Homo sapiens: one gene and its partners. The main gene of each other region encodes a partner of the protein of the gene in region 4 in a complex. Each region holds a gene or a part of one and is shown on either strand. Other genes may lie near its edges.

Region 1 (4,479 bases), on a different chromosome or scaffold from region 4:
CGTTCAAGCCCGGAAGGAAATGCGCAGAGGAGGTGGGAAGCATGTAAGAACCTCCGAGGTTGGGGTGAAGTTTATGGAAGCATAGTCAATGTTGCAATCACTGATTTAGCATTAGTCTTTTTTTTTGAGACAGGTCTCACTCTGTTGCCCAGGCTGGAGTACAGTGGCACGATCTCGGCTCACTGCAGCCTCTGCCTCCAGAGTAGCTGGGCGCTCACCACCACGCCTGGCTACTTTTTTGTATTTTTAGTAGAGACGGGGTTTCACCATGTTCTACTGGTCTCAAACTCCTGACCTCAGGTGATCCACCCACCTTGGCTTCCCAAAGTCCTGGGATTACAGGTGAGCCAGCACACCTGGCAATTTATCATTAGTCTTTTTTTTTTTTGAGACAGAGTCTCGCTCTGTCACCCAGGCTGGAATGCAGTGGCGCGATCTCAGCTCAGTACAACCTCTGCTTTCCGGGTTCAAGTGATTCTCCTGCCTCAGCCTCCTGAGTAGCTGGAATTACAGGTGCATACCATCGCGCCTGATTAATTTTTGTATTTTTAGTAGAGATGGGGTTTCACCACGTTGGCCAGGCTGGTCTCAAACTCCTGACCTCGTGATCCACCCGCCTTGGCCTCCCAAATGCTGGGATTACAGGTGTGAGCCACCGCAGCCGGCCTATCATTAGTCTTAAATGCTCTGAAAGCACATTTAAGATTAAAGGAAGATTCAGGATTTTTATTTATTTATTTATTTTTTTTTTGAGACAAGGTCTCACTCTATCGCCCAGGCTGGGGTGCAGTGGCATGATTTCGCCTCACCACAATCTCCGCCTCCTGGGTTCAAGCAATTCTCGTGCCTCAGCCTCCAGAGTAGCTGAGATTACAGGCACACACCACCACGCCCAGCTGATTTTTGTATTTTTAGTAGACATGGGGTTTTGCCATGTTGGGCAGGCTGGTCTTGAACTCCTGGCCTCCAAGTAATCCACCCGCCTCCAGCCTAGGATTTTTACTTTTATCACAAAGATGGGTATGAGTTAAAGAGCAGTGACTAAGAGTGTAAAACTCTGGTCTGAAGACATCTGTGCTTTCTTTTCCTTCCTGTTCCCTGTACCCCCAGGCACGGTCCCAGTCACTTGCAGCCCAAACTTTCGACAGGAGGTTGAAAGGCACGCAGCAGCCCCACCGTAACAAGAGAGAGGTCAAGGGGCTCTTGGGGTAGCACAGGTGCGTTCACACTTACCGCTTAGCCATAAGGTTGTTGACGCTGGCCTCAGACAGAAGCCCCTGCTTGCCACATTCTTGGAGCAGGAAGTTTGTACAGTCACAGCTGTGAGGGAGAAAGATGCTGAGGGAACTGGGCACCTGGATAGGATGGTGAGGGGTGGGAGTGGCAGGTCCCTGAGCAGCATCCTCCCTCTTTCAGGATGAGGAAAATCTGGAGTGCCTGAGGGACGGTAGAGGGGCTCTGGGGACTTGGCAACTGTGGGCTCCTATTTCCTGCCCCTGCCAAGGGGAGTGAACAAGGAGACAGAGTCCCCTGAGGCTTCTCTGGCACAGAGATCAGGGGAAGAGCCCAGAACGCCTTCCAGTAGGGCGGGGGTGACCAGGGGAGCTCATACTTGCAGCGCTGGTCAGCTTTGTCCAACAAGGGGGTGAGCTTCAGCAGGAACTCAAAAGCACAGTTGACATCCTCAGTGAAGTCCTAGAAAGAGGCAGAAGTGTCCATCTGGTTTCCAGGGCCACCAGGCCCTGATCATCTCAGGCAACCTTGTCTGCTGGAGGCATCGGCCTGAGTTGCCTGGCTGCTTTCTGCCTGGAGCCTGGGTGTATGTTGTGGGTGCACGCAGACGCTGAAGCACACACACTGGCTGAAGCACACGTACACGCTGAAGCACACACACGCTGAAACACACACACTGAAGCACGCACACACTGAAGCACACGCACATGCTGAAGCACACGCACATGCTGAAGCATGCACATTGTGAAGCACGTGCACGCTGAGGTGTACACTCACATCCGGCTCTCTTCCAGGCATGAGAACACTGCCCAGCTGGGGCCTGAAGGACCCTCCCCTTTGCCCTTATTTCTGCTCCCATGCCTCCATCTCAATCCCCAACTCACCTTGTCTCCATGAGAGTACTTCTTCAACTTCACCAAAACCTGTGGAATCTAGGGGGTGAGGCAGGGGGAAAAACAGGAAGATCCATTTCTTTTCTCTTTCATCTACCCCTGAAGGCATCCCCCCGAACCCCTGCTCCAGGAAGAGAGACAGGAACACTCCTACCCTGGGAGTGAGAGCACACTTAGTGCTAAATGAGAAAGCCAATAGGTGCCCAGGCCCCTGATGCCCCCAGGCCTAGGCACAGGACACAAGCACCCTGCACCTCCGCTAGCTCAACAGAAAAAGATGCCATAAGCAAAAGTGGATCCCCAGCTTCAAGGAGGACTGGGGCCCCTTTCCCTGGCTCCCTTTACTGCCCTGCACCTATCTGTCTGATGACCAAGCTAAACTGCACCTCTGTGGTAAGAAACAACGGAGTCTGCCAAATGGGCTAAATATAGCCCTGGCACTTTCAGAGAAAATGATCAATGGGAACTTGCACTGGAATACCTGGCAGGCTGGGCCCAGTGCCCGCAGGGAGGAACACAGGGCAAAGGTCCAGGGTGCCACTGGTCTTGCTAAGAACCATTCCTAGACTGGCTCTGCCCCTCCCACGTCCCCAGTACCTTGAGGAAAGTGAAAGCTGTCCACTTGAGCTCCTCCGTACCCTCGGGAGACTCAATGAGCCCCACGAAGCAAGCTTTCCAGATCTCCAGGACAAAAAGTGGGGTGGGGATATGCTGTGGGAAGAGCCAAGGATGAGGCCTAAGAGGGTGCCCATACCCCGTCACCCTTCTGTGGACTCTGAGGATTTGGCTGGGTCAGAGACTGCATGGCAGAGTCACTGCTCAGCTATGTGCTGAGAACCAGGGGAGTAAGGTCCAATGACAGAAGTGTGCACGACTGGCACCCACTTTCCATCATGGAGCAGGAGAAACCCCACTTCTCCCAGGGAGAACCAGAAGAATCCTCCCTCCTGCCCCCAACAGGCTGGCCTGCCTTGGAGAAGGGAGAGCCACTCGGCCCCTCCCACCTGCATGCGCTTCACCATCGTCAGCTGCTCCACCAGGGACTGCGTCTCGCCTGTCAGGTTCATGGTGCCCTCGAGCAGGATCACGGCGTGGACAGTGGGGAAGCCGGTCTTGTGCATCTGCTCCGCATGCACAGACAGCATCGTGGGGATGCTGAGGGGTCACAAACACAGGGGACGGTGTTTGGGGGGCCAAAGGTGAAGGCGGAGAGGATGGCACGGGTGCCACATCTTCCTACCCCAGGGCGTGTCCTCCCTCTCCCTTCTCCACCATCCCCCAGGGAGCCGGTACCTCCTAATGAGGGTGCCACACTGCTCGGCCTGACTCCGGAGCTGCGGGTTGCTGAGATTGGCCAGGATCTCTCCAAGTTTCAAGAGAGAATGCTCGATGGCAGTCCAAGAAGCTGGCAGAGGGAAGGAAGTACAGAAACATGATGGGAAACAGGAGAGAAGGAGCACCTGGCCCTGAACTCCTCGATTTTGGCACTCCCTCCGGCACACGAAACCACACAGGAAGGCTTCCCCTGAGGACAACAGGGAGGGAGGGGCCTGAGGGCAGCATGCACTGTTTCCAGAAGGGGGGTGGGCACCTAGAGCTGGAAACCCCAGAGACCATTCCCAAAAGCCTGATTTCCAGGGGACACAGCCAGCTGACTTCAGAAGGTATGGCATCACACAGGCTCAGGAGAGAGAGGCAGAGGGAGGCCAGAATCCAGTGGCTGGAACAGGGAGGGCGGCCACAAATCACTCGAGGAGTGAGCGGATCCCAAAGTCCAGTCTTGCAGAGGCTGTCACTCTCCTCTGGGGGAACTGGGTCCCTAAATGGCTTTCTCATTCTCAACCACTCCCTCATCTAGGCATTGCGTTTGCTGCCCTCCCCTGCTGAAGGCCTCTTACACACTCTCTCTCAAACTCCCACCATGCTCTAAGCTTCTGTTCAAGCCCCAGTTCCTTTAGCAACTCACCCGACTGGTCTAACTCACTGTTCTCTCCTTAATGCCCACACTCATGGTCTAAGCCATATTGGTTAGCACTGAACTATAAGTTACTTATCCTAGTTACAATTCCAGAGGGTCAAATGATGAATAATGGCACCAACTAGCCCATTAACCTCCATGGAGCATAAAAGGGGGAAAAAAAGACAAGACCTGAGATCCATTAAAATTCAGTATTCATCCGATTTTCAGCCAATAAACATTTATCAAGGGCCCAAGGTAGGGAAGAGGCTGTCAACACAGTCCATTTTTATATAAAGATTGTCTTTTTGGACTTTTCACAGGCAGTAAAACATACTTGGGGAAGAAATAAATATACTAGTCCTAAAACAAGCTCTCCAACCAGGTCCTGAAGCC
Region 2 (4,907 bases), on a different chromosome or scaffold from region 4:
ATCCCTACCTGCTGCCTGGGAATGGGGATTTTCTGTAAGGTCACTGCGTGGCCCTCTTGGAGAACTGAACCCTGATCCAGAAAAAACACTCTGATATTTGGGCCATTGTTAACCTGTAATTTTAGAACAGTTTTATATTTGCAGAATTCTTGCAAAAATCATGCAGTGAGGCCGCGGTGGCTCACGCCTATAATCCCAGCACTTTGGGAGGCCGGGGTGGAAGGAGGGCTTGAGGCCTGGAGTTTGAAATCAGCCTGGGCAACATAGTGAGACCCCATCGCTATTAAAATTTTGAAAAAACAGGCTGGGCGCGGTGGCTCACGCCTGTAATCCCAGCACTTTGGGAGGCTGAGGCAGGCAGATCACCAGGTCAAGAGACTGAGACCATCCTGGCCAACATGGTGAAACTCCGTCTCTACTAAAAATACAAGAATTTGTTGGGCATGGTGGTGCGCGCCTGTAGTCCCAGCTACTCGGGAGGCTGAGGCAGGAGAATCGCTTGAGCCTGGAAGGCGGAGGTTGCAGTGAGCTGAGATCGCGCTACTGCACTCCAGCCTGGGCCACAGAGCGAGACCCTGTCTCAAAAAAAATAAAAATAAAAATAGAAGAGCACCACATCCATTGCATTAAACTGGCTTTTGGAGGAGGAGGTGGGAATAGGGTTGGAAGTAGGAATACTCAACGGGGTCGGTGACTTCGCTTACAGTTTCCCCACTCTTGGACATTAGAAAATGGAAGAAAGGCCGGGCGCGGTGGCTCACACCTGTAATCCCAGTACTCTGGGAGGCCGAGGCGGGCGGATCAGGAGGTCAGTAGATAGAGACCACCCTGGCCAACATGGCGAAACCCCGTCTCTACCAAAATACAAAAATTAGCCGGGCGTGGTGGCGCATGTTTATAATCCCAGCTACTCGGGAGGCTGAGGCAGGAGAATCGCTTCAACCCGGGAGGCGGAGGTTGCAACAAGCTAAGATCGCGCCATTGCATTCCAGCCTGGGCAACAGAGCAAGATTCCGTTTCTGGGAGGGAAAATGGAAAAAAAAAAAAAAATATGGAACGCTTCACGAATTTGCGTGTCATCCTTGCGCAGGGGCCATGCTAATCTTCTCTGTATCGTTCCAATTTTAGTATATGTGCTGCCGAAGCGAGCACGAATATTGAGTTCCACCACCAGCTATTTAAAGCCCCTGGAACAAATGTCTGTACACATAGGCCGACTTCTCTTAAATGACCTAGAGATTTAACCTCTATTTATATTAGCCCAATGTGTAATGCAACTAACGTAGTTATTGACTGGAGTTGAGAAAGTGCTCGTTGTTCTACCAAATATAGCTACGGTGGCTGCTGGGAATTACTGGAAATGGTCGTATGCAAATAGCCCCGGAGGCGGGGCAGAGCCTGAGCCGCACCGCCCTCCCAGAAGTCTTTGGGAGGCGGCCCCACGCCTCAGGCGACTGGTTGTTACCGAGGAAGATGGCGGCGCCAGACCCGAGGCGCTAGGGAAGATCGCACCGCGGACGCCCGCTGAGCTTGGCGCACGGGCCGACCAGGTGAGTGCGGGGCTGCGGGGGCCCGGCGAGGGCGGACGGACCCCTGACCGTGTCCACGGACCCGAGGGAACGCGGCGCAGCCGTGGCGGGGCCTGCGGGGTCGGGGGCGTGGCCGGGAGCAAAGGCTGCTGGGTAGGCGGCCTGGGGCGCGGGGCGCGGGGCGCGGGGCGCGGGGCGCGGGGCGCGGGGCGCGGGGCGCGGGGCTCGGGGCTCAGGGTTTGCGGCGGAAACCTGGGGGAGGCCTGAGGCCCGCGGGGCTGGGTTCGGGGCGGGGCCTAAGGAGAGTTTGGGGCGAGGCTGAAGGCGCTTGGTGGGACTTCGGGGGCGGGGCCTGGAGTGGGTTTGGGGTCGCCGGGGTGGAGCCTGGGGACTGGGGGGCTGTAGAGGCAGGGCCTGGAGACTGCGGGGTTATCGGTGCGGGGCCTGGAGAGGGAATAGGGTCCCTAGGGTGGAGACTGGGGACTGCGGAGTTATAGGGGTCTGGAGAGGGTAGGGGGTCCCTGGGATGGACCCTGGAGATTGGGGGTTATAGGGGCGGGGCCTGAAGAGGCTATGGGGTCCCTGGGATGAAGCCTCGTATTTGGGGGCAATAGGGGAAGGGCCTGGAGAGTACGTGGGGTCCCCGGGGTGGAGTCTGGGGACTGGGGAGTTTTAGGGGTTGGGCCTGGAGAGCTAAGGGCGTTGGAGGCTGGACCTGGAGAGTACATGGGACCCCTACGGTGAAGCCTGAGAATTTAGGGTGAGGCCGTGGGCTCAAGGGGTGAAATGAAGTGTGGGAAGCAAAGGGGGTCAGGGGTGGGGCTGAAAGACTTTTAGAGGCTTGTGGCGGAGCCTTGGGGGTCTGGGGCAGGCCCTGAAGAAGTAGGGAGCCGGGGTTAGGGTTTGAGGAGAACCTGGTTGCGGGTGATTCCAGGCTCCCTGGGCTTTTGCCTTTGCGAAGCGAAACAGCCCGTCTGGATGCCAGGCGCTTAGAAAGCCTCGAGGAGGTGCCCCCTCTGTTCCCTGTGACACTCAGCCCCCGCCTCGGCCACAGGTGTTCCCCAACACACTCAGCCCCGCCTCGGCCACAGGTGTTCCCCGTCACACTCAGCCCCGCCTCGGCCACAGGTGTTCCCCGTCACACTCAGCCCCCGGCTCGGCCACAGGTGTTCCCCATCACACTCAGCCCCGCCTCGGCCACAGGTGTTCCCCGTCACACTCAGCCCCCGCCTCGGCCACAGGTGTTCCCCGTCACACTCAGCCCCGCCTCGGCCACAGGTGTTCCCCGTCACACTCAGCCCCGCCTCGGCCACAGGTGTTCCCCGTCACACTCAGCCCCCGCCTCGGCCACAGGTGTTCCCTGTCAGTCAGCCCCGCCTCGGCCACAGGTGTTCCCCGTCACACTCAGCCCCGCCTCGGCCACAGGTGTTCCCCGTCACACTCAGCCCCCGCCTCGGCCACAGGTGTTCCCTGTCACTCAGCCCCGCCTCGGCCACAGGTGTTCCCTGTCACTCAGCCCCGCCTCGGCTACAGGGAGCCGCCCCACCGCTTGCCTGTCTGCGGGCTCTTCCTTCGGGAGAGAGCTAGTGTCCACTTGCTGCCCCCATCATCACTCACCTGGGCCAGCGCAGACCCTCCGCTGCGTCTCCCGGCTGTGCCCTTGGCCCCCATGGTCTGTTCCCTAGACAGCCAGAGGGGTCCTGGTGAAACCCAAATAGGTCCCAGCCCTCCCGGGCTCCCACCTTACTGAGAGTAGAAGCCCACAGGCCCAGGACTGGCCCTGACCTCTCCATGTTCCCCCTCGGCCCCAGCCCCAGGCTCTGTCTGGCCTCCGGGCCTTTGCATCGGCTGTTCCCTCTACCACGGGCCTCCATTGTTTTCCCACTTCTGGCCTGGCACTCCACATGCCCTGGGTGCTCAGCCAACATAGACGTCCCACCACACCTCCCTCCCGCAGGAGCTGGTGACTGCCCTCATGTGTGATTTGCGGCGGCCAGCGGCAGGTGGGATGATGGACTTGGCCTACGTCTGTGAGTGGGAGAAATGGTCCAAGAGCACCCACTGCCCATCGGTGCCCCTGGCCTGCGCCTGGTCCTGCCGAAATCTCATCGCCTTCACCATGGACCTGCGCAGCGATGACCAGGGTGCGTCCCCCTCCCACCTGCTTCCCCTCCCGGCCGCATGGTGTCCCGCCCTGTTCCCCAGGTGCCCGGCCCACTGCCTTGAAGGGACTCGGTCTCTCAGGCCACCTCTCACTCACCCTGGCCCTCCTCTGTAACTTGTGTGAGAGCCTCAGCCTCCTGGGGGTACAGAGGGTGGATTCAGTGCCCCCCAAACCTGGTGCCAGGAGACATGAGATCGCCCCGTGTGCGGGATCGAATCGGGCTGGAGCGTTGGTTGACGGAGGCTTGTTGGAGACACGTGCCCCAGTTTTCTAGACGGTGTGTGTCACTGGTTTTTGAAAGGTGCGTGGTGGCTGTGCCCGTCTTCTCTCCATTGTTTGAGTAATAGGCACTCATAATACGTGGTCATTAGAGAAAACTAGAAAACCACAGAAAATTGGAATCAAATCGGGGTGCAAAAAAGCCACCTATTATCTGCTGTGGAGAGGCTCCCACTGTTCACATTTCGGAGTCATTTTCTTCTAATCTGGTTTTAAAGACACAGTTGTGGCGCCTCACAGGCCTGCTCTGTTCCTGCGGGGGGACAGCCTGTTCCCTGAGCTGTCGACTCGGCTGACAGCAGTTCTGTGACCTTCCTGGGGTGGGACACACACCGGCTTACCTGGAGCCTGCCTGGAGTCATCGTCATCGTCTGCAGGCTGTGGTGCCAGGCCGTGCTGACCATGCCCCGTCCCCACAGACCTGACCCGCATGATCCACATCCTGGACACGGAGCACCCCTGGGACCTGCACTCGATCCCCTCAGAGCACCACGAGGCCATCACCTGCCTGGAGTGGGACCAGTCAGGTGAGGCGCTGGTCCCACGTGGCCAGGGGTGGCGACCCGGATCCCGGAGCAGGGGGGCCCTGTGTTTCTCCGGTCAGTCTGGAGTCCGGCGCTGGGTCTAGAGCCCCTGGTCTGCAGCTTTGCACCTGCTGCTCTTTCCATAGTGGCCCGAATCATTCTTGTTCAGGGTGTCTCAGGGCATCTCTGGAGTGCGCCTTGTGCCACCTGCTGTGCCCTACCTGGGCCGAGACCTCTCCACTGGGCTGGCTTCCCCCAGGCGCTGTGCCGTCCTGCAACGCAGTGCTCTGCCCATCCCTGGAAGGTTCGCAATGATGGCTTCTTGCCCTCAGGCTCCCGGCTCCTGTCAGCAGATGCCGACGGGCAGATCAAGTGCTGGAGCATGGCGGACCACCTGGCTAATAGCTGGGA
Region 3 (3,876 bases), on a different chromosome or scaffold from region 4:
AGCGGTTTCCAACGTGAAGAACATGAACATATTTTAGTAATTATGTGTTTAATTGATAGTTACTCATTTTTCCTTCAATAGGGATAAAAAGACAACTTTCATTTAAAAGTGAGTGTGAAAGAGGACTATGCGCATACATTGTACTCTTGTTGTCCACAGGGATATACCAATTCTGAAATTAGATATACTCTAGGATTGGACAAGCAAATATACTGTGGATAAGGACAGCCAAATTTCTGGCTATCAGAAAAGGAGTTATAGACATGGAAAGGAAAAAGGCTAGAATGAACCCTGTGTTACTGAGCTGGTATTGAAAACATCAGTATGTACTTACGGCTTTTAATATAGACATAGAATAAACATGTATATGTGTGTGCATGTATACACATACATACATATATATATAGTTCTTGAGCTTTGTGTACTGACAGGGCCTAGAAGCAATGACACTGTGGTACTAATGAACACACAATGACCAGACTGTGGTTTCCAAGGAGCAGGTTTCCTTGGAGAAAAGGGTGATTCAGGGATAAGACAGGAAAAGTACAAGATGAGCCTGGAACATTACGTAGTGCCAGAAGAAAAAGTGCTAAAAATTCCTGGGAGGATCAAAAGTATTCAGGAGCCAACTTGAAGGGCCTCCCAATGGCCAAATCTGGAATACTTAGCGCAAGAAAATACATAATTCTAATTCATAATTCTACTAAAAATAAGAATCCAAAAGTCCACACTAAATGGATGTAAATTTCTTTAATAAAATAATAGGAAACAAGGGAATATAATTCCTTACAATCGAATTCCAAACTAATAAATGCAGAATGATAGAATTAGAAAATCATCACAGTAAAAAATGTTTCAGGCAATTATCTTCAAAAGATGCTAAAACAGGCAAAATACATGTAATATGATATTTACATAGTCTCAAAGGATTTCCCTATAAGATACTTATTAAATACACAAGGAAAAATAGCAACTTAATATGGAGAAACCTAGACGGTACCACCCTCAACCAAGTTACCAAAATTTACGTCACCAGTAGTGGGACAAATAGACTTCATGTGACTGCAGATATATGAAGGATACAAATCATTTCTGTCATAGTCATGGAAAAGAAAAGACCACTGAGATGAAAGGAGACTAAGAAGACATGACAGCAAAATGCAACATACGGGCCTAGACTGGATCCTGCACTACATACAGCACACCAGCAGAACAACTGGCAAAATGTGAATGAGGTCTGTAGATTAGGTAATAATATTAATGTGCTGATTTTTGCTGATTGTAGTGTTACACATTTGGAATACGTGGGTGAACAAAATACAGGAATTATCTTTACTATTTTTCCAGCTATTTTGTAAGTGAAATTATTTCAAGTTGAAAAGACATAAAAGCTAACAGACAATTAAAATACATTAACATATAGGAAGTGTGGGGAAAAGAGATCAGATTGTTCCTGTGTCTACGTAGAAAAGGAAGACATAAGAAACTCCATTTTGATCTGTACTAAGAAAAATTGTTCTGCTTTGAGATGCTGTTAATCTGTAAATTTAGCCCCAACTCTGTGCCCCCAGAAACATGTGCTATATTGAATCAAGGTTTAATGGATTTAGGGCTGTGCAGGATGTGCCTTGTTAACAATATGTTTGCAGGCAGTATGCTTGGTAAAAGCCATCGCCATTCTCCATTCTCGATTAACCAGAGACACAATGCACTGCGGAAGGCCGCAGGGACCCCTGCCCAGAAAAGCCTGGGTATTGTCCAGGTTTCCCCCAACTGAGACAGCCTGAGATATGGCCTCGTGGGAAAGGAAAGACCTTACATCCCCCAGCCCGACACCTGTAAAGGGTCTGTGCTGAGGAGGAGTAGTGAAAGAGGGAGGCCTCTTTGCAGTTGAGATAAGATGAAGGCTTCTGTCTCCTGCTCGTCCCTGGGAATGGAATGTCTTAGTGTAAAGTCGACCATTCCCATTCGTTCTATTCTGAGATAGGAGAAAACCGCCCTGTGGCTGGAGGCGAGATATGCTGGCAGCAATACTGCTTTGTTGCTCTCTGCTAGTTAGATATTTGTGTAAAGTGAAACATAAATCTAGCCTATGTGCACATCCAGGCACAGTACCTTTCCTTGAACTTATTCATGATACAGATTCCTTTGCTCACGTTTCCCTGCTGACCTTCTCGCCACCTGTTGCCCTGCTACACTCGCCTCGCCAAGACAGTAAAAATAATGATCAATAAATACTGAAGGAACTCAGAGACCGGCACTGGTGCGGGTCCTCGCATGCTGAGTGTGCCGGTCCCCTGGGCCCACTGTTCTTTCTCTATACTTTGTGTCTTATTTCTTTTCTCATTCTTTCATCTCCACCTGACGAGAAATACCCACAGGTGTGGAGGGGCAGGCCCCCTTCAGGAAGTATGCAGATAAAGCCAAAGTTGCACAAGTGATATGCAAATGACTAAAGTGTGGAAAATAGGATACTACAGCAATGCTTCTAAAACTTTAATGTGTATATGGGTCACTTCTTAAAATGCAGATTGAATCCTTAGGCCTGGAGTGGGGCCTGAGCTCTGCATTTCTAAAAAGCTCCCAAATGAAACCAATGCTACTGATGTGAACACCACATTGAATAGAGGGCTTAATACCATGCTTCTAAGATAGTAACTTCCAAGACAGCAAAGATTTGCTATCCACACACTAAAAATACACAGTTGCTCTAATTGTTGGCTGCTTATGCTAGAATGCTCTATTCACACCTGCCCTGGCTAACTCCCTTTCATGACAGCATTAGTAGTTAAAATGACCAGGATGTTATGTTCCAGCCAGGTGGCCTTTAACAAGGTACTTAACCTCTCTAAGGTTCAGTTTCTTCAACTGTAAAATAATGTGACAACCAAGAGAATGGTCTCAAGTAGCATTTAGTCAATAACTAGAATTTAGACATGCAGTGATTATATCAGAATACCTTAGATGACAATAAAGAATCATACTCTGATAGGCTACAAGTCAACAAGATGAAATAGAAGCAGTATAAAAGGGAAGTTCTGCATTTGGTGTTTTTAAAAAGAAACAACATAGGGAGAACCCAACAGCATGATGAAAATAAGAACTGAAGGATTTTAGTTGACATAATGCTTCCAGCAAGTCAACAATGTGATCCTCTTCCCCACTCCCACCCCCAAAAGTAATATAAACTTAAGTTGAATTAACAGAGGTGTATGACCACATGAAGAAAAGAAAGGACCTCTGGCCCACTGTACTCTGACCACACCTGAAGGCCTGTGTTTAGTTCTTGGCTGAACTGCATAAAGTACAACTGCCAAATATCCAAAGGAGGGAACCTCAACTCATGAGAACTCTGGACACCATGGCACAATGGCAGAGGGTAGTTGAGAAAAATAGATGGAAGAGAGATGTTATAGTGGCACCTACTGGCTATCAATGAAGCAGGCCAAGTGGTAGAAAGTGTCTCTTCCACCAGGTGGAAAGCAGCTAGTAGTGACAGCTGCTCTCAGCTTCAGCCCAGTTGTTGACTTGGGAGAATTAAGATCTATGGTTACTAGATCTTCCAGATTTGAAAGAGTAGCTGGAAATCTGCATTTGTTATATACAACTTTCTGATCTTTAAATGTTGGCAAGTATTAAAAAAACTAAAATCTTCTGCAGACTGAATAAAACACCCAAAAGGGGCTAATTTGCAGTCTCTCTTGAATGTAAATATCTGGAAGGCTGTTGTCCTCAAGAGGGTATAGAATGGTTCTAGCTTCATCCAGGGACAAACAGACTGGGGCTACAAGGAGGTACATTATATCACAATATAAGGAAGAACTTTCTAATATCTGGCTAACAATCGAATCAGCTGTCCCTGACAGAGTAACACGG
Region 4 (3,787 bases):
AAAAATAGCTAAAAAGGTAATGTGTCATAGTGTTTAATGTTTCTGTAATTGTTGGTAAGGCTTGTATCTAAGTCTGATGCAGAATTCTTAATGGCACTCAAACAGTTCTTTTCTCAGCCACATGGTATCCACTGATGCTATGAGTCTGGAAGAGACTGGCTATGGGTACCACTTCTTGTCTTCAGCTGTGACTGTGCAATATCAGCAAGTGCGCTTTGTATCTTCTCCAGAAGCATGTCTCCTCGATAAACAACATCCTCCAGACATGTAGCAGCTTCATGGTTTTCTTCTTCTAGCTTATACAAGCTAGCAGCCTTTATAAGACACAAATTTTAAAATCTTTAGAGTTTAGAAAGAGAAGCTGTCACAGATGTACTTATTTTTAAATCTGGATGACTTTGCAATCATTGTGATATGTTTTTCAGTAAAGAAATTCTAAAAATCAGACAACTTTTAAGAATTTTCCCCATGTGAATTATTAAAAAGAATGACTTTTCAATTAGAGATCTCTAGATATCTTTAAGTGACTCCCTTACACATTACGTTTAGACACCATTATTCTACTCCAATTGTAGAATGCCACCCTCCTCTCATTCTTCACTAGGAAAAGAGACAAAATTGAGGAAAATAAGAGGTTTCCTTATAATGGAAATTTGAATATTATAACAAAAGGTGCTATGATTTGAATGCATCCCCTCCAAAATTCATACATTAAAATCTAATCCCCAATGTGATGGTATTAAGAGGGAAGGGGCCTTTAAGAGGATATTAAGTCATGAAGGCAGAGATCTCATAGATGGAATTAGTACCCTTAAAATATGGCTTGAGGTTGAAGAGGGAGCTCTTGCTCTTTTGCCCTTCTGCCTTCAGCCATGTGAGGAAACAGGAAGAAGGCCCTCAACATGGCCCTAAACATGGCACCATGTTTAATAAAAATTCATTACTCATGCACAGTGAGTAATAAATGCCTTGATCTTGGACTTCCCAGACTCCAGAACTGTGAGAAAATAAATTTCTGTTCTTTATAAATTACTGTCTCAGGTATGTTGTTATAGCAGCACAAATGGACACAGACAAAAGGTACTAAATCTACCTCCTTTAATTCAAAATTCTCTATTACTGGTAAAATTCTCAAAGGAATAGAGGCTTACCTGTAAAGCAGCTGTAGATTCTTCACTGGGTAAGGAATCTATCAAAACATCAATGTCTTTTGCTGTTCGTGCAATCAGTGCTGCAAAAAGCTGGGCATACTCTAGAGAAAGATACTGCTAGATTAGGATATTAGAAAACCTCAAGTTTTCAGAAACAAATTTTAAGTTAATGAAACCAGAAACTTCATATAGCTTTTTCTGCCCTAAGATTCTAATGATTCGGCCAGGCGTGGTGGCTCACGCCTGTAATCCCAGCACTTTGGGAGGCCAAGGCAGGCGGATCACGAGGTCAGGAGTTTGAGACCAGCCTGACCAACATGGTGAAACCCCATCTCTACTAAAAATACAAAAATTAGCCAGACGTGGTGGCATGAGCCTGTAATCCCAGCTACTCAGGAGGCTGAGGCAGGAGAATTCCTTGAACCCGGGAGGCGAAAGTTGCAGTGAGCCAAGATTGCATCACTGCACTCCAGCCTAGGTGACAGAGCGAGACTCCGTCTCAAAAAAAAAAAGAAGATTCTAATGATTAAAATATACACCAATCCTGTTACACATTTAGCTCAAATTGGGAATTAAGCATAATGTATGTAATTTCATTTATTATGACAATATAGTGGTCACCTGAATAAAGAAATTTATAAATGGGATGCCTTCCTTGTTAAGGTCCCTCACTCAGCTAAATTAATACAAATTCTCCTCTAAAGGAGTAACAATCTATTATCTGACATGAACCAGAATTATGAGATGTTAGGTGAATTGACTGTAAATTTTTTACAACAAACAAAACTTGTAATATTCTCAAACAACAATAATTTTAGAAATAAAATAAGCTGAATTTCTCAAGAAATCTAATTTTAAAGGATTACAAAAAATGTGAGAGTCAAACTAAGAGAAGCTAAGAAAACCTGTTTACCTTCTGTAGGGTTAGCTGGCTGGTCTTTGTTAATTGCTGTCTGAATATTATTGAAAGAGGCAGGAGGACCACATTGCTGCAATACTCCAATGGCATTACAAAACTGATCTGCAAGCTTAGGCCAAAGAAAACATATCAAGGTTAGAAAGGACTTATCAGTTTTAAGGACTTTATTGGTAATGGCAACAACAATAAGTTTCTGTAATGATAATCTCTGAGCAAGGGAATAAAACAGAAAGGAGTGATTGTTGATAAAATAAGCCAGTTATTATTAATGTTGATTAAACGTTTTAATTCTGCAAAGAAACTAAGTTTGGTATCAATCTAGGTAAAGTTAAATTTGATATAAATCTAGTTGAAACAGTTGAAATACAAAATAATCTTTCTTTTCTTGTGATAGTAAAATGATAAGAGAATATTGGCCAATACTTATTGTAAGCCACAAGTAAAGACTTTTTGGGGATAGTGATGGAAAAGAGCAAATTTGACTTGTAAATATCTATGGCACCATGTTTAATAAAAATTTATTTCTCATGCACAAAGTATATGATTCCTTTTCTGAGACTGGAGTAGTTACAAGTGTAAAGAAATAGTGAGGAAGAGGCTGCTCAGAAAAGCACCTTAAGTAAGCAGAAATGTATTTGTTCAAGACTCAATTTGTAAACTCTTGTACTCTAAAAGTATTCCTTAAGTACTTTTAAAGATTGGGAATAGCAATTCCTTACCATCTCCAAATTAAATACACCTATCTTCCCTACCAATTTCTCTCACCTAGTCTTGACCTCTCAAACCTCCTATTTCTAATAAGTATTTCCACTGGGTTTCTCTGCCATTGTTTCAATGACAGAACTCAAAGGCAACTGTTTCCTCTTTTTAATATTTAATTTGTATTGAAAGTCTCCTAGTCAACCAATCTAACTTCAGATTCTTACTTTCCTTTGATCTTCATATTCTGCTAATACTACAAATCTTTCTCTTTTCCTTCTATCACTGTTGCTTAGTTCAACCAATTATCTCACACCAGAATTATTACAATAGTCTTCTTGTTGTTTTCCAGTTCACCAGGTTATTTATTTTAACCTGATCAAAACATTTAAGCTTACTCCACCACTGTCTTCAAGATAAATCTCCAACTCAGGCTGTTTTGAAGCTTTCAATAATCTAAGTCAACTCTACTGACTCGTTTTCCACTACTCCTTCATATTTATCTAACTAGTCATAAAGTCACTTATGACTAAATGGCTTTGCCCAGGTTTTGCTAATTGTAATGGAGCAATAAGTGCTCAGATGCTATACAAACCTAGATCCTGATCCTAGCTCTATTAATCCAAGCAGCATTTTTCATTTTTAAATTGGATACATTCTCCTATTATAGCATTGTTGTAATAGAGGAAACACACACAAAAAAATATTCAACACAGTGTCTATCTTTTCCATCCTTCAAAAGCTTTTAAGATCCATTTAGTCAACAAAAATTTATGGAAAATAACTAAAGTACTGCATATAAACACTACAGAGACATAGTGAATGCGACATAGCTTCTGCACTCACGGTTTTCAGAGGGTAGAACAAATGTTAAAAGTTATACAAATAATTCTGATTAGGATAAATGCTAAGAAGATTCCCCCTATTTTGGTTCACATCACTCCATATTCCAATTTACATCAGAACCTGAAGCTGAAAATACTCAATTCATTATAACTCCCTAACCACATACTGTTTT
Region 5 (4,479 bases), about 89 Mb from region 4:
GTAGCACAGACAGACGAACTTCTGCCTGCCAGGAATTCTCAGCGGGTTCCACACCCTCTTGACTCCAAAACCACGTCGGATGTTTTAAGGTAGATACCAACCTAGGCATCATAGCAGTGCAATTTGAAACAATATTCCTTTACTGTTGTCTTTCCAAGGTGTTTTAATCTAAGTGTGGTATTCATAGAAGCTGCCGTTTGTGCAGTGATACAGTATCTGATGAGTCAGTGAGAGCTGCAGTCCCTCATAGCTGCATGGGACAGGCGGTGTAATACATTGGATTCAGTTAGGCAGTGATAGGCATTTATAGTTGCCTTTGCTTCCTGTTCAGAGCAGGCACTTCATGGTGATGAAGAGAGGTCAGATCTTGGGGGTGGATAGTTAGAAGACAGTGTCTGGAACTCTTAAAGCACCTCACATTGAAAACACTTTTTATGCTTCCTGAGATAGATTATGTATTTTTGTTTGTTTATTCGAGATGGAGTCTCGCTCTGTCACCCAGGCTGGAGTGCAGAGGCGTGATCTCAGCTCACTGCAAACTCCGCCTCCTGGGTTCATGCCATTCTCCTGCCTCAGCCTCCCAAGTAGCTGGGACTACAGGCACCCGCCAGAATGCCCGGCTAATTTTTTGTATTTTTAGTAGAGACGGGATTTCACCGTGTTAGCCAGGATGATCTCGATCTGACCTCATGATCTGCCTGCCTCAGCCTCCCAGAGTGCTGAGATTACAGGCATGAGCCACCGATTATGTGTTTTTTTAAAAATGGACTAGAACATAAATGACATAGTTGAGAAGTGCATTCCAGAAGTGTGTATTAATCAAGCCACAGGCATTCTTCATCTACCTTGAGAAAATATACAGGCCTTTTCTAATGTTTTCTAACTCTTAAATGGTTAGGAAATGATAGGAAACTATATATTATAGATTAATGTATAATTATAGTTATGGATAAAAATAAAGAACCTGATCAACATAAATTTGGCTTCCAGGCCCCCTAGAGCAGGGGTCCCCAACCCCCGTCCATGCCTTGTTAGGAACCAGGCCCCACAGCATGCGGTAAGTAGCAAGTGAGCGAGCATTACAGCCTGTGCTCCGCCTCCTGTCAGGCAATGACATTAGATTCTCATAGGGGCACAAACCCTATTGTGAACCGCACATGCAAGGGATCTAGGTTGTGTACTCTTTATGAGACTCCTAATGATTTAAGGTGGAACAGTTTCATCCTGAAACCATCCCCCACCACGTGGAAAAATTGTCTTCCACGAAACTGGTCCCTGGTGCCAAAAAAGGTTGGAGACTGCTGCCCTAGAGGAACACTGTCCAATAGAAATACAATGTGAACCTCAAATCTAATTAAAATTTTTCTGTTAGCCACATTAAAATAGTAAAAAGAAACTGGTTAATTTTAGTAATATATTTTATTTAACTCAATATACTCAAAATGTTATTTCAACATGTAACAATATAAAAATATTCATGAAATATTTTACATACTTTTCTTTTTTTCGTTTTCTTTTTCTTTTTTTTTTGGAGACGGAGTCCTGCTCTGTCACCCAGGCTGGAGTGCAGTGGCATGATCTCACTGCAACCTCCGCCCACAGGTTCAAGCAATTCTCCTGCCTCAGCCTCCCAAGTAGCTGGGATTACAGGCATGCACCACCACGCCTGACTAATTTTTGTATTTTTAATAGAGATGGGGTTTCACCATGTTGGCCACCTGGTCTTGAACTCCTGACCTCAGGTGATCCACCCCCACCTCGGCCTCCCAAAGTTGCTGGGATTCCAGGCGTGAGCCACTGCACCTGGCCCCTAAGTGTTTGGGCTCCAGTGCCTACTTTACCTGCAGTCCACGCAAGTTCCTACTGGCCTCACTGGCGGAGCTCAATGGCCATGTGTGGCTGCTGGCTACTGTACTGGATAGTCCATATCTAGAAGGAAGGAGGAACATGAGACAAAGGATGAGGGAAAGAGCCTGGGGCAAGTTAAGGAATGCCTTTGAGACCTCCTTCCTGCTAAGATCTGGAATGTATTAGAATCTGAGAACCAGCCTTCCCTCTTGAGGCTCACGCCCCTGCTCTGTGTGTTCTCTTTGGCAGGTTTGTTTTGGAGCAGTACAACGCTCTGTCCTGGCTCACGTGCAATCCGGCCACCCAGGACCGTACTTCCTGCCTTCCCGTCCACTTTGTGGTGCTCACTCAGTTGTACAATGCCATCATGAATATACTTTAATTGGAAAAGCACTTGTTCTCTCTGGCTCAGTTCCTTCTCCCTGCAACCTCAGTCCAAGGAACCTGCTACACTCTGCAAATAACCCACATCCTTTTCTTCAGACCACTCTCCACAGTCCTGCACTGTGATTCCTTCTCAGCAGGCACATGTCAATTCTGCAGTGTTCATTACCAGAGTGACTCCTTGACACTTCTCTCATGGACCTGGAAACTTCCATAAGTGGTGACTTTCAGCCAGTGCGGTGGTGTGTGTAGCCCCAACCACTGGTCCCCAGGAAGTGGTGGTGGTTGATGGCTTTTCAGCGGGAAACAGAAGAGACAGTGTCCTTTTGCACAAGAGTCTGTGTTTTCAGCCTCTGTATACAATTGAGGGCAGTCTAGCCCTTTGGATGAAATCCTCTTAGTTACTGGTGTATGGCCTGTGGGTTACCTGAACTCCATAATCTGGGACTTTTTAAAAATAAGAACCAGCTCAAGTACATGGTTTCATACTGGGGTTTCTGTCTCCCTAGTGTTCCCATCCAGATTAGCATGAGTGCTTTGGTTGACTTCAAACCTGTGTGTCAATGCAGAAGGTCTGGAGACAGCTTCATTTTGTTTATTTATTTTAATTTGTTTTGTCATATGGTTTTTGTGACTTTATTTTTTTAATTCACAAGGACCAGGTACAGTAGCTGAAACCCAATTCAGATCCACCATAGGATTCTTTGACTACATACCTCTGTCCTAGAAGCCGGAAAAGGAGTAAAAACACATTGGGGAGATCATGCCTAAAAGTAATATATTCAAAACCACCCAGCAGTAGGTTTTGTTAACAACAAACTGGATTTTAAAAGTTCTGCCATGTTAAGTGGCCAGCATTTCATGAAGGATAACATTTTTATACAGAAGGCAGTCAAGCTCAACTCAGAGCCATGGAGGCAAGTACCTTAATTAGTTTTATATAGTCACAACGGAAATATATTTTCTAGTGAATTCTTATTGGAAGCCAGGTCTCTCCTCTCATTAGATCAAAAGGGACTTATGTACATACAACAATTGAAAGTGTTTGCTCATGAAATCAGTTATAAATATGGTGAATTTTTTCTGGACCATAGGAATATTATTTCAAAGAAATATTACAACTTAACCATTAAATTAGTACTTGAAGTTGAGCCTTTGTGGTGGGACTTTTTAAAAAAATGCCTTTTTAAAGCATTAATGGCTAATTGAAGTATTTTATGACTCCTCATTCCTGGCCCAGAGGGTTGTCTTTGAAACCCTGTTTCTAACCCTTGTGTTGTGTGTTTCTGTCTGAGGACAGTGGGTGTGTACTGGCCTCCCGGGAGCCACTGTGACCAGGCCTTTGAGCTCTTGTCATCTGTGGAGAGAATCATGCAAATTTTAAAAGTTCTTCCAAGAGACTTCCATGTCCTGGTTATTAACAAAAAAGGAAAAATGTAATAATTGATATGATTTTGTAAAAGTATTTTTCTTGAAATAATCTAAAGTTTAAAACATTATATTAAAAAAAAAGTTGTGTGGTGGGAATGTGAAAGCAGAGAAATAACTTGTAAATGGATAATTTTGTTCTCTGTACCACCAGTTGAAGGGGGGGTTGACTTTCGCAATGTATAGGATAAAAAATCTGATATATCAAACCATTTGTATCTAATGTGTACAGTGTAAAATTGACTTTAAAAATATTGCAGTGCTATTTTTTCTTAATCAGAAAGGAAAATTCTCAAGGCCTTTTGAAGAGCATAAGAAGATGAAGATTGTAAACTTGTATAAAATTATCTTGGTGAGAAGACAAATTGTAAAGTAGATATTTGTAATCTTTTACCACTTTGGGGTTGCTTTTTTCCCGGAATTCATCAGAACTTTGAATTTTTTTTTTAAATGGGCTGTTTTTAATGCAGGGGCTTTTCTTCCCTAGAAACCCAATTCTAAGCAGAAAAAGAAAAAAAACACAAAAAATAAAAAACCCCTACAAAAAAACTTTAAAAAAAATGGCAGCAAAGGGTAGTTTTCATCTGGTGTCTTTTATTTAAGTTTTTTAAGTTAAGAAAAGCTGGTGACATATTTATACGTTTTTGTGCAAAAATAAATGAATGGCAATAGATTTTAAAAAATCTTATTATGTACTTCTGTGTGAAAAAGTCTGTATAATATTTCCCTTAAATATGCATTATTTTACTTGTGAGTTTTTTACTGAATTAATCTGAAATGTACAAGCCCTGGATTTGCTACAGAGTGAGAAGTTATTTT
Region 6 (4,479 bases), on a different chromosome or scaffold from region 4:
CCTGCCCTCACCTTTTAACATACCACCCATTTTTCAATACCCTACCCTCCTCTTTCCTCTGCTCCACCTGCCCCATGTCCTACCCCACCCATCTATCTGGCCGACAGCCTGTATCTCTTTTATTTCTGTGTTTCCCTACACCCACCCATCTCTGCACACTTTTATCTTTTCCCTCTCTGTCAGTTGCGGTATTTGTTGAGTAACCATAATTATTGTGTATAGTTTAAAACCCAAAGTCTAACTCCTTCATATATACATTCTCTTCATCTGTCTTCCTAGTCCATCTGTCTCTTTTCCTCCGTCTCTGTCTCTCTCCCTGTCTGACTCGTTTGCCTTTCTTTGTCTCTCCACCTTTTTGTCTCTCTCTTCCTGTTTCTTTCTCTCTCTGACTCTTTCTCGGCCTGCCTAAAGGCAGAGTCTCTCCCTGCCTTCCTCTCTCTCTTTCTCTGCCTTCCTTTTTCTGTCTTCCTCTGAATGTCAATCCCTCTCCCTCCCCGCTCCCTCTCTGGCTTTCTCCCCAACCCCTTTCTCTCCCGATCTTCTCTCCCCACACGCCCCCCGCCCCGTTAGTTCATCTCCTCTCCTGGTCTGGGCTGGCTTCATCTTGTGCCTCCACACCTCTCCCTGTGCCCCACCCTTCACTCTCTCCCCGCATAACTCTCTTCCGCATGTATATGTGTATCCATGTCTGTCTGTCTGCTTCTTACCATCTCTCCTGAATCTGCCTATGACTTTCTTTCTACCCATTCCTACAAATGCTTGCAGTCTTCTGTTTTCTAAGTCCCAACAGCTTATTGTTTTTCATTTTCTGGAGCAGGGTCTACAGGTTTCCACCAAACAGAAGATCTCGCCCTGGGATCTTTTTGAGGGGTTGAAGCCGTCAGCACCACTCTCTTGGGGCTGGTTTGGAACAGTCCGAGTGGACCGGCGAGTGGCTCGAGGAGAGGAGCAGCAGCGGTTGCTGCTCTACCACACACACCTGAGGCCCCGGCCCCGCGCCTATTACCTGGAGCCACTGCCACTGCCCCCAGAAGATGAGGAGCCGCCTGCTCCTACCCTGCTAGAGCCTGAGAAAAAGGCTCCAGAGCCCCCCAAAACTGACAAACCGGGGGCTGCTCCACCCAGTACTGAGGAACGCAAGAAGAAGTCCACCAAGGGCAAGAAACGCAGCCAGCCAGCTACCAAGACAGAGGTGAGCGCCTCCCCCGTGACAGTTCTCCCACAGCCTCTCACTTCATGACGCTCCGGTTTCTGGTTTGTGGGAGGGGTGGGGGCGCATAAGGAAGGGGTGCCATTAGAATCATAATAAAAATTAACCATATACGAATTCAGCTCCTCTTTACCTCATTCTCCCCCAGCTCCCCGACCCCATTCAGCTACAACCCACTCACCCTCTTCCTCTGCCACTCACACAGGACTATGGAATGGGCCCGGGTCGGAGCGGCCCTTATGGTGTGACAGTGCCTCCGGACCTCCTGCACCACCCAAACCCTGGTTCTATAACACACCTTAACTACAGGCAAGGCTCCATAGGCCTGTACACCCAGAACCAGCCACTACCTGCAGGTGAGTGCCAGCCACTAGGAATGCTGGAGGGACCTACCTGTACACTCCCCCTGCCCAAAGGATGATGCCATTCCCCTGAGGAGCTATGGATGTCAAGGACACTGAGCAAGAGACAGAGGGATGAGGAGCCTAGAGGTCAGCCCACTCTCCTTTTCAGGTGGCCCTCGTGTGGACCCATACCGTCCTGTGCGCTTACCAATGCAGAAGCTGCCCACCCGACCAACTTACCCTGGAGTGCTGCCCACAACCATGACTGGCGTCATGGGTTTAGAACCCTCCTCTTATAAGACCTCTGTGTACCGGCAGCAGCAACCTGCGGTGCCCCAAGGACAGCGCCTTCGCCAACAGCTCCAGGCAAAGATAGTGAGAGGGGCAGTAGGGAGGGCTGTCAGGGAGAGGGGCTTTTGAGGGTCACAGGACGGAGGAGACACTTGGGATCTTCACAAGGACACTCAGGGTGGGAGACACAAGAGATGAGATGGCAGCAAGCATTTCCTGAGTTTGAGTTGTTCTCTTTTCTCCCTTTAGCAGAGTCAGGGCATGTTGGGACAGTCATCTGTCCATCAGATGACTCCCAGCTCTTCCTACGGTTTGCAGACTTCCCAGGTAAGAGCCTGGGATTGTGAGACTAGGGGGATGAGGCAAGCTGCTCTGCATACTCTCGGCCCTGATTCCCTCTCTCCTTCTTCCCTCCAGGGCTATACTCCTTATGTTTCTCATGTGGGATTGCAGCAACACACAGGCCCTGCAGGTACCATGGTGCCCCCCAGCTACTCCAGCCAGCCTTACCAGAGCACCCACCCTTCTACCAATCCTACTCTTGTAGATCCTACCCGCCACCTGCAACAGCGGCCCAGTGGCTATGTGCACCAGCAGGCCCCCACCTATGGACATGGACTGACCTCCACTCAAAGGTACCCAAAGTAGTGGTGAGCTAGGAAGAGATGCAGAGGTATAAGGGAGCATTTGACTTGGGAAAGCCTGTGCCTGAAAGTGGTGGGACTGGTCAGAACTTTCGGAGACATCAAGAATACTTATCTGGCCACATAGCCCATAACCACAGAAGTCTCGAGCTGGAAGGGACCCTGGAGACCAATAGTTTCATGACTACTTCCTTAACAGTTCTTTGAGGCCCAGAGAGGGGAAATTGTTTATCTGACTCAAGGAAAAATCTGGGCTGGGTGTGGTAGCTCACACTGGTAGTCCCAGCACTTGGGGGCCCAAGGTGGGAGAATCAGTTGATTCCAGGAATTCGAGGCCAGCCTGGGCAACATAGGGAGATCCCATCTCTACAAAAAAAATACATATTTTTTTGAAACAGAGTCGCACTCCATTTGCCCAGGCTGGAGTGTCGTGGCATGATCATGGCTCACTGCAGCCTCGACCTCTGAGGCTCAGGTGATCCTCCTACCTCAGCCTCCCAAGTAGCTAGAACTACAGGCACACACCACCACGCCCAGCTAATTTTTTGGATTTTTAGTTGAGATGGGGTTTCGCCATGTTGCCCAGGCTGGTCTTGAACTGAGCCACCACACCTGGCCAAAAAAAAATTTTTTTTTAATTAGACAGGCGTGTTGGTGCATGCCTGTAGTCCCAGCTACTCAGGAGGCTGAGGTGGGAAGATTGCTTGAGCTTGGGAGTTTGAGGCTGCAGTGAGCTGTAATCGCACAATGAGCCGAGATTGTGCCACAGCACTCCAGTGGTGACAGAGTGAGACCCTGTCTCAAAAAAAAAAGAAGAAAGAAAAGAAAAAGAAAAAAATATCTGGAGTTCATAGATGAACTACATGATAAGGAGTCGTAAAGCCAGTACCGGCTTTGAATACCAGGTTAAATACCAGGATGGACAAATGAATGAATCCTCCCACCATGGTTAACGTTAGTCAAGCCTTAGTTGAGGCCTTGTAACCATGTATAGAGACTCTGAAGCTTAGGATTAAGAACACTGGGGAGTGGGCTAACTGCCCATTGTGTGGCCAGCACTATACCAGGACTGGGTGAGGTGAAGAAAGATAGCAAAAAAAACCCCCACGATACATAGTTCCTCACTACAAAGAATCTTTACTATAGCTGGGGAGATGAGACTTATAGAAGAATATTGAGAGAACACTCTGAGCAAAGATATAATCAGGTATGCAGTTGTATGCTATGAGGTAAAATGTGGATTGAGAAAAAGTACGTGGTAATATCTGTGGGCCTGACTCATCAGAGAATGTTTCATGAAGGAGGTCAGACTTGAGTTGGCCTCTGAAGAATAGCTGTGATTGGGATTTGTGGAGAAGAGGAAAAGAAAGGGCATTCCAGGTAGAGGATGTAACGTGAACAAAGACATGGGGACCAGAATGAGGATGGTGCCTGGGGAGAAGGGCCTGGATGGAGTGTAAAATCTGTGCTGGGGAAGTCACTGGGGCTAGGCTAGGAGGGGGCAGGCTGAGAGATGGCCTTGAATGCTCAGCCGAAGAATTGAGACGCAGTCCCAGAAAGGGCTCTTTTGATCAGAAGAGTGATAGGAGGAGTTGGGTATGTTGCAAGGTTCCTTGGAATGAATGGATAGGATGTGTACTGGAAGGTGCAAGAAGAAGACTTCAGGCCAGGCACGGTGGCTCATGCCTGTAATCCCAGTACTTTGGGAGGCCCAGGCAGGCAGATCACCTAAGATCAGGAGTTCGAGACCAGCCTGGTCAACATGGTGAAATCCCGTCTCTACTAAAAATACAAAAATTATCTGGGTGTGGTGGCATGTGCCTGTAATCCCAGCTACTTGGGGGGCTGAGGCAAGAGAATCACTTGAACCTGAGAGGTGGAGGTTGCAGTGAGCCGAGATCGCATCATTGCACTCCAGCCTGGGCAACAGAGTGAGACTCTGTCTCAAAAAAAAAAGAAGACTTGAGACGGGGAGCCTGGCCAGTAGACT
Region 7 (4,479 bases), on a different chromosome or scaffold from region 4:
CTCTTCATAGTTAAGTAATTTCTCTTAAAATCAAGAGATAAACAATCCCCTTTCTAGACACCATCTCTCGATGTCTGGGATAACTCCACTCCTAGGGATCCTTTGGATTATACTTTCTTAGTTCCATTTGGTAGCTCTTGCTTTAAGGTTCTACTCCTGGGTCCTTTCCTTGTTTGCGACATTTTGTTAGAAGTGACTGACTTCATCCATTCTCATGATTTTAATTAGCTCCTCTGCACTGTAAGATCTCAAATGTACTTCTCCATCCTTAACCTCTTCTCAACCTTCATGATGGGCGTTTCCTCTGCATCTCCAATTCAATACATCCCACCCTAAATTCATTACTGGCAAACTAAGTCCTCTAAAATTGCTCTTGGATCCTGTTAAACTAGTTTCACTACTAATGGTTGTGACCTGCAGTTTCAATAACACTGGTAAAGAAACTTAAATAGATACTTCAGAATTTAATCATGTCACAGGAAACCCAGATTATATTTTACCTCTATCATACAACGAGTTCTCTCTTGCTGAAATCTTTGTAAAAATGGTCCAACAAGATGGTATACATAAAGCAACTGGAATTCGGTCTTCACTATAGGAAGAAGTACTTCAGTAAGAAACCTAAAATTTGAAGATAAAAATCTCCTGTGACTTGAAATTATTTAAATTGTTTGAATTTTGTTCATACAGTATATACAAAGTATTACAATAAAATATAATTTTTTAAAGTTCCTTTTAATTTGGTAACAATAATATTTCTAATTAATCTCACATCTCTCACTGGCTATTACTTTCACTTGATTATTTTTATTTATTTATTTTTTTGAGACGGAGTCTCACACTGTTGCCTGGGCTGGAGTGCAGTGGCGTGATCTTGGCTCACTGCAACCTCCGCCTCCTGGGTTCAAGTGATTCTCCTGCTGACTAGCTGGGATTACAGGTGCACACCACCACGCCTGGCTAATTCTTTTATTTTTAGTAGAGACGGGGTTTCACCATGTTGGCCAGGATGGTCTCAATCTCCTGACCTTGTGATCCACCCATCTCGGCCTCCCAAATTGCTGGGATTACAGGCATGAGTCACCGCGCCCAGCCGCAAGTTGTTCTAATGAATGAAGTATATACCTCATCTGTTAATGAGATTAGAACAAAATGAAATACAATTTTTTTTTTTTTTTCAGATGGAGTCTCACTCTGTCACCAGGCTGGAGTGCAGTGGCGCGATCTTGGTTCACTGCAATTTCCAGCTCCCTGGTTCAAGTGATTCTCCTGCCTTAGCCTCCCGAGTAGCTGGGGTTACAGGCACACACCACATGCCCAGCTAATTTTTGTATTTTTAGTAGAGATGGGGTTTCACAATGTTGGCCAGGATGGTCTCAATCGCCTGACCTTGTGATCTGCCCACCTCGGCCTCCCAAAGTGCTGGGATTACAGGCATGAACCACCGCACCCAGCCTACGTCAAATTTCTTTAAGAAATTATTATACTTACTTTGGAATGAGAGAAAGTTGTCCGATGCTAGAATGGTGCCACACAGCATGTGCAAGAGCTAACGTATAGCTACAACTCATCTCAGAGTAGGACTGATGACAGGCAGTGAAATCAAAGAGGCGGAATGGATAGCCAACCCACTCTGTTTCAGACGTCAAGCTGGGGCTGCTGATGACACTCACAATTCGATCATGAAGAACAATCCAATATGGCTCCTTTAAAATCGGAGGAAAGCTAGTGAAAAATATCACTTATCCAGCATTCCACCCCAAAGTCTAAAGTAATAGTGTTTTCTCATTCTTTAAAGTTTTCTATTTTTCCAGCTTCTGCACAATACAGCTGGGTGGCTTTGTAACTGGTCAAATTAAGTCAGTAACAACCTGGGAGAAGTAACTGTGAGTTAAGGGGCTCCATACATGTATCTGTCCAGCTCATTTAGGTACCTGATATACACTATGCAGTAAATCAATTAATTTATCAAACAATAAATCTATAGCTTTATTACTTATTTAAAAATAATAAACTTTAAAAAAATATGTGTGGAGGTCAGAGAAAGGAGTCTTCATGTGAGCTGGAAAAGTCAGGGAAGGCTTCATTCACTGAGAAAGGAGGCTCTAAGCTAGCAAAGAATGAATAGGCTTTAGAGAAGGTGATGGAAAGAAGAAGCTTCTGGAATAAGAAAAATGTCTTATTCCCTCACATTCAGAAGTACCTAAAACATGTCTTAAGCACTATCTGAAGGAACAAAGGCTGTAGATATACAACACGTTAAGTGGCCAAGAGTAGATCAAGCTATTATGTAAAAACTAAAGTTGGATAGGTAAGGTGGTACCAGAAAATGCAGAGACCCGTAAGTCACATAGATATATTTAGATCTAATACAGAAAAGCAAAAACTAGTCACTGTAGATTTTTAAAGCAGTAATAATATGAAAAAACTTTAAAAACATAAAATACTTCATTAATTTGCATGACGTCCCGTACAAGGGCATCCTATATGCATCTTTTTCTTTTTGCTGACATGGAACAGCTGGCTGTATTTCATCACTAAGTACAAATCACAATTATTAACTCACTGGTAGGGCAGTGATGATCAAACCAATTGCATTCATCCATGCTGTAATGTTCTCTCTTGGCACTAAAGGCTGACTGCAACCGGCAAAAAAGAATGTAAGTATGAATTTATAAAAACATTTTAGATGGCTGACAACGGATCTTATTTTTAAAGAATATGTCTAATTCAGAGGATCGACAACTAATCCATTTCAATAAAACAATGGGGAATTTTTTATTGAATAAAAATGTAATATGCATAAAAACTCAAGAAGGCTTTTTAAAAATACTTCCTCCCCAATCATTATCCCATACTTCATGCTAATTTTTAAAAGAATCTTGAAATCTTGAAAACAAGATGAAGAGAATCTTGTTTTAAGTGACAAGTTAACATTATTCCTATATTAAATGTCAAACTGCTATTAATGAGTAGAAGTAGGAACAAACCCGGATCTTAGGATCCTGTCCAGGGCTCATTCCATAACTCCTATATCACAAAGACAAGATCTGGAACCAGAAAACAGTCATCATCCAATGTGCATCAGCCTTGCGGCAACAGGTTTGTCTTAAAAGTTTGAAATAGAATACCATTCTATTTACAAATAAACAACAAATCTTACTGCATGAACCAGAATACATACCTTTTTAGGACAACATTTAGAAGGGCATTCCCAACTTCTTTGCCTGAAACTGCCAAGGCCATGAGCTCCACACAAGTAACATGGAGAGCATGGGCAGCTGGGTTGGGAAACTCATTGAATCTCCAGTCACAGTTTGGAAAGGGACCAGGAGATTTGCCAGCCATCGGTGCACACAGTTAAAGCAATAACAATTGGACTATCTCATCTGATTGTCAATTTATCTGATTATGAGCTGCCAAGAAGTGATTTGTCTACGCTTAGAGAGATTAAGAGGCAAATGCAAACCAAATACAAATGAGTTTGACATGATTGAAATGTATTAAAAGCAACCATTTGATTAACCACAGGTATAAATGGTTGGTCTTTCAGGTGGGTTCTTATAAATATGACATATAATAGCCACAGATGCAACCAAGGTTTACCTAGGTTTCATGAGCCTATTTCTTTTAATAGTTATAAGACATTAATATGAAAATTATTTTCTAATGAGTCATTCTTTTGCTTCAGAAAATAAATTCCTTTGTGTAGGAAAATAAGTCATGCTCATTTATGTAGAATTTCTTACCTAGTAAAATAGTGGTATGGTTATAGACATTAAGTATAGAGTGCTAATAACTGAAAATATAAAATCAAAATGAAGAAATAAACATCCAAGTATATTTTCACTAAAATATACCTTTTCAATAAAGAAAAATATATTTTATCATTTATTATTTACTACAAACATTAATTTTTTTAAAGTAACAAGATCCTACGTTCTCCAGTAGCACACAGATGCATGTGCTACAAAATATAGTATGTAAGAATAAGATTTTTTCTTTGAAACAAATCTCCATAAAGTCTATTTTTAAATATAATTTTTTTACCGCTTATCCTCAAGTTCTAAAATAAAAATTTTAACAGAATTTCAGCCTAATTGGCATGATGCTGTTAATTTAAGATTTCAAATCTTTACAGAGATGAAAATGGAAGTGATCTTAAAAAAAATTAAAACCTTGAAATACATAAAAAATTACTTTAAAAGAAAAAATATATTCTCATAAATCAAAATACTGTTATTTCTGGGAGTCTAAAATCACAATAAAAAGGATATTATCGACTAGTCTGCCAATCAATCTGCAATAGTAGGTGTCATCTGGAACCCAAGGATTTTCCTCTCGTGCATTCATAGCGCATTTCAGGTAAGTGTCACTTAGACACCAGCCCTGCGGTCGATTATCCTTCAGAGAGCCAATGATCGCATGGACGAGTTTTCGTTTGAGAAATGCGCGGTCTCTCAGGTGCATTTCATAATA

What was found.
Region 1: MED21 (region 4) and MED24 share a complex: the UniProt entries of both Homo sapiens proteins name them as parts of the mediator complex.
Region 2: MED21 (region 4) and MED16 share a complex: the UniProt entries of both Homo sapiens proteins name them as parts of the mediator complex.
Region 3: MED21 (region 4) and MED31 share a complex: the UniProt entries of both Homo sapiens proteins name them as parts of the mediator complex.
Region 5: MED21 (region 4) and MED13L share a complex: the UniProt entries of both Homo sapiens proteins name them as parts of the mediator complex.
Region 6: MED21 (region 4) and MED12 share a complex: the UniProt entries of both Homo sapiens proteins name them as parts of the mediator complex.
Region 7: MED21 (region 4) and MED23 share a complex: the UniProt entries of both Homo sapiens proteins name them as parts of the mediator complex.

What each region holds. Positions count from the first base shown.
Region 1 is NC_000017.11:40,029,926-40,034,404, forward strand, and holds part of MED24 (mediator of RNA polymerase II transcription subunit 24), read right to left. Parts: intron 3,532-4,479; coding exon 3,420-3,531; intron 3,282-3,419; coding exon 3,131-3,281; intron 2,838-3,130; coding exon 2,724-2,837; intron 2,166-2,723; coding exon 2,118-2,165; intron 1,696-2,117; coding exon 1,613-1,695; intron 1,321-1,612; coding exon 1,234-1,320; intron 1-1,233. UniProt on the Homo sapiens protein: Component of the Mediator complex, a coactivator involved in the regulated transcription of nearly all RNA polymerase II-dependent genes.
Region 2 is NC_000019.10:889,729-894,635, reverse strand, and holds the start of MED16 (mediator of RNA polymerase II transcription subunit 16), read left to right. Parts: upstream 1-1,448; 5' UTR 1,449-1,550; intron 1,551-3,486; 5' UTR 3,487-3,504; coding exon 3,505-3,673; intron 3,674-4,391; coding exon 4,392-4,499; intron 4,500-4,828; coding exon 4,829-4,907. UniProt on the Homo sapiens protein: Component of the Mediator complex, a coactivator involved in the regulated transcription of nearly all RNA polymerase II-dependent genes.
Region 3 is NC_000017.11:6,644,956-6,648,831, forward strand, and holds part of MED31 (mediator of RNA polymerase II transcription subunit 31), read right to left. Parts: intron 1-3,876. UniProt on the Homo sapiens protein: Component of the Mediator complex, a coactivator involved in the regulated transcription of nearly all RNA polymerase II-dependent genes.
Region 4 is NC_000012.12:27,024,812-27,028,598, reverse strand, and holds part of MED21 (mediator of RNA polymerase II transcription subunit 21), read right to left. Parts: intron 2,180-3,787; coding exon 2,065-2,179; intron 1,253-2,064; coding exon 1,152-1,252; intron 315-1,151; coding exon 138-314; 3' UTR 1-137. UniProt on the Homo sapiens protein: Component of the Mediator complex, a coactivator involved in the regulated transcription of nearly all RNA polymerase II-dependent genes.
Region 5 is NC_000012.12:115,959,017-115,963,495, reverse strand, and holds part of MED13L (mediator of RNA polymerase II transcription subunit 13-like), read left to right. Parts: coding exon 1-89; intron 90-2,097; coding exon 2,098-2,230; 3' UTR 2,231-4,479. UniProt on the Homo sapiens protein: Component of the Mediator complex, a coactivator involved in the regulated transcription of nearly all RNA polymerase II-dependent genes.
Region 6 is NC_000023.11:71,135,464-71,139,942, forward strand, and holds part of MED12 (mediator of RNA polymerase II transcription subunit 12), read left to right. Parts: intron 1-817; coding exon 818-1,192; intron 1,193-1,415; coding exon 1,416-1,566; intron 1,567-1,723; coding exon 1,724-1,920; coding exon of another isoform or gene 1,921-1,929; intron 1,930-2,094; coding exon 2,095-2,172; coding exon of another isoform or gene 2,173-2,262; coding exon 2,263-2,480; intron 2,481-4,479. UniProt on the Homo sapiens protein: Component of the Mediator complex, a coactivator involved in the regulated transcription of nearly all RNA polymerase II-dependent genes.
Region 7 is NC_000006.12:131,589,822-131,594,300, forward strand, and holds part of MED23 (mediator of RNA polymerase II transcription subunit 23), read right to left. Parts: coding exon 4,278-4,479; intron 3,351-4,277; coding exon 3,185-3,350; intron 2,640-3,184; coding exon 2,567-2,639; intron 1,707-2,566; coding exon 1,492-1,706; intron 622-1,491; coding exon 501-621; intron 1-500. UniProt on the Homo sapiens protein: Required for transcriptional activation subsequent to the assembly of the pre-initiation complex. Component of the Mediator complex, a coactivator involved in the regulated transcription of nearly all RNA polymerase II-dependent genes.